2 linked regions of the Homo sapiens genome follow. The protein of the gene in region 2 interacts with the protein of the main gene of each other region in a pairwise test. Each region holds a gene or a part of one and is shown on either strand. Other genes may lie near its edges.

Evidence for each region.
Region 1: the proteins of CCP110 (region 2) and KIF24 interact in binary tests that used the Homo sapiens proteins (3 or more experiments, as listed by UniProt).

The regions. Positions count from the first base shown.
Region 1 is NC_000009.12:34,322,597-34,326,349, reverse strand, and holds part of KIF24 (kinesin-like protein KIF24), read left to right. Parts: intron 1-3,753. UniProt on the Homo sapiens protein: Microtubule-dependent motor protein that acts as a negative regulator of ciliogenesis by mediating recruitment of CCP110 to mother centriole in cycling cells, leading to restrict nucleation of cilia at centrioles.
Region 2 is NC_000016.10:19,522,088-19,525,840, forward strand, and holds the start of CCP110 (centriolar coiled-coil protein of 110 kDa), read left to right. Parts: upstream 1-1,854; 5' UTR 1,855-2,001; intron 2,002-2,692; exon of another isoform or gene 2,693-3,753.

The DNA.
Region 1 (3,753 bases), on a different chromosome or scaffold from region 2:
CTTACTCTGTCGCCCTGTTGCCCACACTGAACTGCAGTGGTGTGATCATGGCTCACTGTAGCCTCTGACTCCCAGGCCCAAGCAATCCTCCCACCTCAGCCCCCCAAGTAGCTGGGACCACAGGCATGTACCACCATGCCCAGCTAATTTTGTTTATTTGTAGAGACAAGGCCTCACTATGTTGTCCAGGCTCATCTCAAACTCCTGGGCTCAAGCAATCCTCCCTCAGCCTCCTAAAGTGTTGGGATAACAGGCATGAGCCACTGTGCCTGGCTGACCTTGTCTGTTTTGTTCACTTATATTCCTGGTGCATAAAACAGGGCCTATCTCATACAAGTCTCTCAAAAAATATTTCTTGAAGATTGGATAAAGTTTCCTCTTGGAACTGTAACCATATCTGTGTCCATATCAATTCATTTGAGTAATACAAACTTGCATAATTTTGGTGTCCAGGAGCAGTGACTCAGGGCACCAGCATCTCTGTCACAATTTTCCTGAGTAATCAAATTACCCTGATAAATAGTTTCTACCACCCGTTACCACAAACGATATCAAATGCTTTTATAGAGTTTTAATATACTGTAGGGATATTTATTCATTAAACAATTATTGAATATTATTTCCAATCACTCTTTTATTTATTTATTTATATTTTTTTCTGAGATAGTCTTACTCTGTTGCCCAGGCTGGAGTGCAGTGGCGCAATCTTGGCTCACTGCAACCTCTTCCTCCCAGGTTCCAGCGATTCTCATGTCAGCCTCCTGAGTAGCTGGGATTACAAAGTGTGTGCCAACATTCCCAGCTAATTTCTGTATTTTTTGTGGAGATGGGGTTTCACCATGTTGACCAGGCTGGTCTCGAACTTTTGGCCTCAAGTGATCCACCCACCTCAGCCTCCCAAAGTTCTGGGATTACAGGCATGAGCCACCGTGCCTGGCCCCAGGCACTGTTTTAGAACCTGGGTATAAAAAGACTAATAAGACATATTGCTTTTTTTTTTTTTTTGAGACGAAGTCTCACCCTACTGCCCAGGCTGGAGTGCAGTGGTGTCATCATGGTTCACTGCAGCCTCAACCTCCTGGGCTCAAGTGATCCTCCCATCTCAGCCTCCCAAGTAGCTGGGACCACAGGTGTGTGCCACCATGCCCAATTAATTTTTATTTATTTACTTATTTATAGAGATGGGTTCTCCATATGTTGCCCAGGCTGGTCTTAAACTCCTGGGCTCAAGTGATCTTTCTGCCTCAGCCTCCCAAAGTGCTGGGATTACAGGTGTGAGCCACTCTGCCTGGGCAAGACACATTCCTTGACCACAAAGAAATTATACTCTATTAGGGGAAATAGACATAATCAAATAATTATCATATAATAATTATTAATATAATTAACTGTAATAATAGAGATATGCAAAAGGTATGATGCAGACACGGAAGGGACATCTGATCACATTGGGGGAGACCAGAAAAGACCTCATTTGTTGTTATAATCAGTAAGAGGTAGACAGGTAAAGGGAAGTTTGATGATAGTGGAGGAGGCCACTTAAGAGCACAATGTGAATGAATGCACAGAGAAATAAAACGGTCTAAGAAGTTGACTAAACTGTAGAGTGAGGAAGGGGCTAGATTACAGAAGGATTTGTGGGTCATGCTTAGGAGTTTGGACTTTGTACTATGTGTAGATGATAAGATACCATTGAAGGGTTTTTAATAAGGGAGCAGCATTGTTATAACTGCTTTCAAAAGAGTGATCTGGCTCTACAGTCTGGAAGATGGTTTGAGGAGGGGCATAACTGGAGGCCAGGAGAACAGGTATGAGACGTGTAATGAATAGGTGGAAGATATGGGGCTGAATCACCAGAGCAGTGGTGGTAGAAATAAGGATAGGAGAGGAGAAATTTGGCAAGTATGTGGGAGATTAAATTGGCTGGATCTATTGATTAGTTTTGGGATTAAGGGAGAAGAAGGCCTCTAGGATGCTTTCTCGTTTAGTTCTGAGTGACTGCATGAATGGTATTTTCACCCCCCTTCCAAAGAAGAGAGAAGTGGAGGGGCAGATTTTGTCAGGAGGTATAATGAATTCTGTTATTGACAAGTTCAGATGCTCGACTGTGGAGACATTTTTATAGTGATTCCTGCTGTTTTTGCTGCAACACATAGCCATGAGATTGTCTGTGTTACTACGAGGTGAACTAAAGTTACATTGGGATTCTGGAAGTAACCCACTTAATAATATTGCACAACGTCCAGACTAAAGAGACTAGTTGAGATTTCACCAGCAATGAGGGGTGGTACTGTGTCTATTACAGTCTTTTAAATTAGCCACTTGCTTATGTGAGATTTGATTAGTTAAAACTAGTGGTGTAGAATTATGTAGCCAATATATGGCTATCTGATCACTTTCTAAAACAAATTTATGTCATGGTTTTGAATAAATTAAATTATCTGTGCCTCAGTTTCTTTATTTGTAAAAAGGGAGATGATACTAATTGCCATCTATCACAAAAAGTCTTGGAAGATTATTCAGGTAGCACAATTAATTACATGTTAATAATTTTGATTACAGTGAAAGAAATTATTGTTTTAGTCGTTCTTTGCTTTCTCGATGTCACTCCTTTGGAAATAATTCCTGGTCCCATGGTGGCAACAGTTCCCAAAGGGACTGAAAGAATGTCATCTTGGTAATTTATGAAAACTGATTGTAACAGTTATTTTTCTGATTGAACATGTGAAATATATTCTGTTGAAAGTATTTTATGACTGCAGTGTGGCAAAATCTGCAAATGACAACGTCCTGCAGTCTGTCAGAGCAAGATTTTAAAAATAAAGCACTGAATTTAAACCCAACATTGGTTACCACCTGTTACTGAGAAGTCTTTCAGAATTAAATGTCTATATTTAGAGAAAGTAATACTTGGCACTGGTTTAAGATAACTAGGTTCTAAAATTTTGTTATGTTTATTTTTAGGTGATTGCTCATGCTTTTCACCAAATGTAAAAACGTAGTAAACTCTTTGTGGGGCTCTTGAGGGGAATTGTAGTAATTGTAGAGCATTAGCTACTTAACCATAAACAAACTTGAAACTATTTTTTTTCTGTTAAAAACAGAAACAATTTCTTGAAAACTACTTTTTAAAAATGGATATAATTTACATGATTTATATCCCCAAATCCACATCTTGCCTTAAGAATTCTATTAAGTATCATATATTCTAATTCCTTTGCAGCAGCTGTTTTAAGCAGTTGTCTAGTATCATCTGTCTTCTGTTGAGATCAGTAGTCTATAGATAGAAGAATCCCTAGAGTTTGAAATAAGTTCCCTTGTAGGGGGAAAAGTGTATACTACATTTTTCACCCTTTAATCTCTCACTGATAATACTGAATTTATTGTGTTCTTGGTGACCTTATGCCTAATATGGGGTACAGAAATGTTTTAATAATAAAATTGATTGAAAATGCTGATTTTCTTTTGTATCAGTTTCTTTAATTTGTTTTTTGGAGACGGAGTCTCACTCTGTTGCCCAGGCTGGAGTGCAGTGGCGCAATCTTGGCTCACTGCAACCTCCGCCTCCCAGGCTCAAGCAGTACCCCGCAATATCAGCCTCCCAAGTAGCTGTGACTAAAGGCATACATCACCACACCCAGCCAATTTTTATATTTTTTGTAGAGATGGAGTTTCACCATGTCGTCCAGGCTGGTCTCAAACTCCTGGGCTTAAGGGATCCAACCACCTTGGCCTCCCCAAGTGCTGTGATTA
Region 2 (3,753 bases):
CGCCGCACAATGGCGGCAGCAGACACATCCAGAGAGGGAGTCGGCCGCCCAGCCAATCAGGGATCGGGATTCGCAGCGCCAGTGGGCGGAGCCGCTCCATGGCAACGGGGGAGGGCCCAGGCCCCAGGCCCCAGGCTCACGTTCCAAATCTAAGGTGGGTTAGGGTTTTCCGAGGTCTGAACTTCAACCTGGGCGTTCAGACTCCTAGGCGAGAAAAGGAGGGATAAGAACCATCCTAAAGCTGTAGGACTGGAAGGGATTTTAGTGACTCCTTTATCTGCCCTTGAGGAAACTGAATTCCAGGGAACCTGGAGAGGCAGGATGCTTAGACTATCAATTCAATTCAATTCAATTCAGTTCAGTTCAGTTCAATTCAAGATGTGCCAAATACCGGTCCAGGTGCTCCGGACACAGTTGAACAGGACCTACAGGGTTTTTGCTCTTATGGGATTCACATTCTTGTGGGAGGAAATAAAAGTTAGCAAGTACACCTAACGTTTACAGAGCACTTACCATGTCCCAGGTACTTGACGAGCAAACACTTTATATGCTTATCTCATTCTCAATACAGCCTAACAGTTACTATCAGGAGACTGATTTCAATCGACTTTATTTTCCAGATTCTGGGGGACTGGAAGAGCCTAGCAAAGAAGGCACAATCGGATTATAAAACTGGAAGGGGTTTTAAGGATTCCCTTATTTCATAGATGCGGAAACTGAGGATAGGTGAATTAAGCAGTTAATGGCAGGGTGGGGACTGACATAAAGGCCTCCCCAGTGATTTGTGACATTTTCACTCCTCCTCCCCCTAATCTTACTTCTGCTAAGGGCTTTTGTACCAGGCACTGTACAGGAGTTACCTCAACTGTGCCTCACAACCACCCTTGTGATAGGCACTTTTAAAACCCCCATTTTACATATGCAAAAACAGGCACTGGAAGGAGGGTAAGAGAGATAGACCATGAAGCCGAGTTAGGGAGTGAAAAGGGGCCCCTGGACATATTTTGGAGGGCTGGTAACATTTTTATGTAGAGAACTTTGCAAAAATATTCAGGGATTTTTCTGTTACCTTTTTTTCCTTTAGTGCATTTTCCCACTGATTTGCAAAAGGGGATAGATGTCTTAAGCCTTCCAGTTGGCATCTAGGATTCAGCCTTTTTTTTTTTTTCTTTCAGACAGTCTCACTCTATCGCCCAGGTTGGAATGCAGTGGTGCAATCATGGCTCACTGCAACGTCGACCTCCTGGGCTCAAGCGATCTTCCGACCTCAGCCTCCCGAGTAGCTGGGATCACAGGCTCGCGCCACCCCACCCGGCTAACGTTTAAAATTTTTGTAGAGATGCCGTCTCCCTTTGTTGCCCAGGCTGATCTCGAACTCCTGGGCTCAAGCGATCCTTCCGCCTCGGCTTCCAAAATGTTGGAATTATAGGCGTAAGCCATCACGCCCGGTGGGTTCAGCAAGTTTTTACCTACAAGAAAATATTTTGGTGAATGTTACATGTTTTCTAACGGCTGCATAGAAAGGGGTTATCTTTATACAGATAAGAAAAAAATGGCAACTTCAAGGAACACTTCAGGGGGCTTCAGACCCTGAGGGGTGTTCCTATTCTACTAAATAAGTAAATTTATTAATAAATTCTAGTCTCTAGCTTGCAAGGAAGACTACGTTTCCCGGCGTGCAGCGTGCTGGCCGTAAGCATTACGTCCTCCATCGCGGGCGCGCAATGCACCTCGGGGATGGTAGTGTTCTGGTGGCCCAACGGTTTTAACAGCCCGGGAATCAACCACCGGAAGTGCCGGCCCTGAGAGGTGGAGTCGGGGTGGCAGCGGCGGCGGTTGCCAGGAGCCCGCGTTGCAGCCTGAGATCCGTAATATGGCGGGGAGGAGGAGGAGAAGGCGGCGGCGGACCGAGCTGCGCTCTGTCAGTACCATTTGAGCCATTCGCTTCCTGACAAGGCCCGTGGCGAGGGGAGAGGAGCTGAAGGGGCCGTGGGGGATCAGGTGTGTGCATGAGGAGGGGGCTTGAGCCTTGACGGGTCCGGGCTGAGAGGTGGTCTGGCGAGGCGAAATTGGCGCCCTGAGAAGCTGAGGGCGGGCTCTGTGCTGGGCTCCCGGGCCTCGAGCCCCCTGGAAAGGCGCCGGCTGTTGGGAGGCGGGACCCCGGGGGCAGCCAGCACCGGGCGCTGAGGTGATGCTCCGATGCTGGCCCCGCCTGGAGGGCCCTCGGTTTGGAGTCTTAAATCGGAGGAGCTGGAGGAGGTGGGCATGGGGCGCTGGGGAGAGGGCAGGGGGCCGTCCCTGGTGAATAAAACTCGGGCCAGAGCCGGAGAACCCCATCGTGGTGATCAAATTGTTTGGGCCGTTTTTCTTCTCCCTCCCACGGTGCTGGAGAGGGAGGCTTCCCCGGGGTGTGCATTGGCCATTTATGAGCCCCTGTTTCCACAACCAAGGCCCTAGGAGCGCTGCTTACTTCGCCTTTGCCACTCTGGGGCATAAACTTGAGGATAATAAAGTAATCGATTGCCCCTGGAGCTGCTAGATGGTTCCCACCCTTTGATTCTATTCTGGTTACGATCCAAGCTCCCTACCCCCAGTTTAGGCAAATGGCAGCCATCTCGAGATTGATTTGACGGGGAGAGGTCTAGGGACAGGGAAATGAGGAAGCCGTTGTCCCCTTTTCTATATTTTTCAGTTTCATTTGAAACCTACGGGGAACCAAGCACTGTCGCTGCCCTCCAGGAATTCATACTCTACTGCTAAAAATCGTCATCATCATTATCCTCTTAATAAGAAAAGCAGTCCCCATTATTTGTTGCTTTCTGCGTGTTCTGCACTACGTTAATTGCCCTACATGCATTAGCTCATTGAATTCTTACAACATTCCTTTGAGACGGATACCGTGATCATCCCTCTTTTACAGAGGACGAAACAGGTGTGGGGATGGTAACTGGCTTGCCAAGAACTTGCAGCTAGTACGCATCTGAATAAGAAATCTTCCCCTTTACCGCTTTTACAAGAAGTTTGCGTCTTTGGCGGAACTGATGGGCAAAGAAACACTAGGTTCTGCAAAAAAAAAGCAGGATCTGTTCTGTGTTACTTTTACCACTCTTTTCAGTGACATGTCTGGCAGAGCACGGGTAAGGAGCAGATAGGACCATGAGTCTACGGGGTTTGCAAAGAGGCTCATTTGCACAAGGGTCAGTGGTTCTCTGTGGTATAAATGGAGAAGACGGCATGTCTGAACCTGCTGTAGCTGACAAATTATTACTGGAAGTGGACCAGTGATGCCTGATGGCAAGATATAGAGCAGTAGATTTGTGGCTGGGGTAGCCTTGTAGTCAGGGCTCCCTTAAAATAAAACCTTGCTGACAGTGGTAATTGTAGTGTGAAAGGCATAGTGTCCTCTTGCTTAATCATGGGATACAGACTGCTCACTTCTTAAATGGTTACCTTTGCAGTTTAAGAGGTACCAGTTTCTCTGGGACTAGAGCCATGGTGAAATTTCCATTCTCTAAATTCCACTCTTCCTTGCTAGCTTCGGTGTATAGTCCGCCTTCTTTTTTTCTTCTGGTTTACATTATTGTTTGAGCTTATTATTATTCTTATTCATTTATTCAATACTTTTATCAAGTGCCTGCTGTGTGCTGATACTGTTCTGTGTAATGGGGATTCAGTGAACAAGACTGAAAAGGTACCTGTACTTATGGCGCTTACATTTTGGTGGAGGAAGACAGACAAAAATCAAGGAAATAA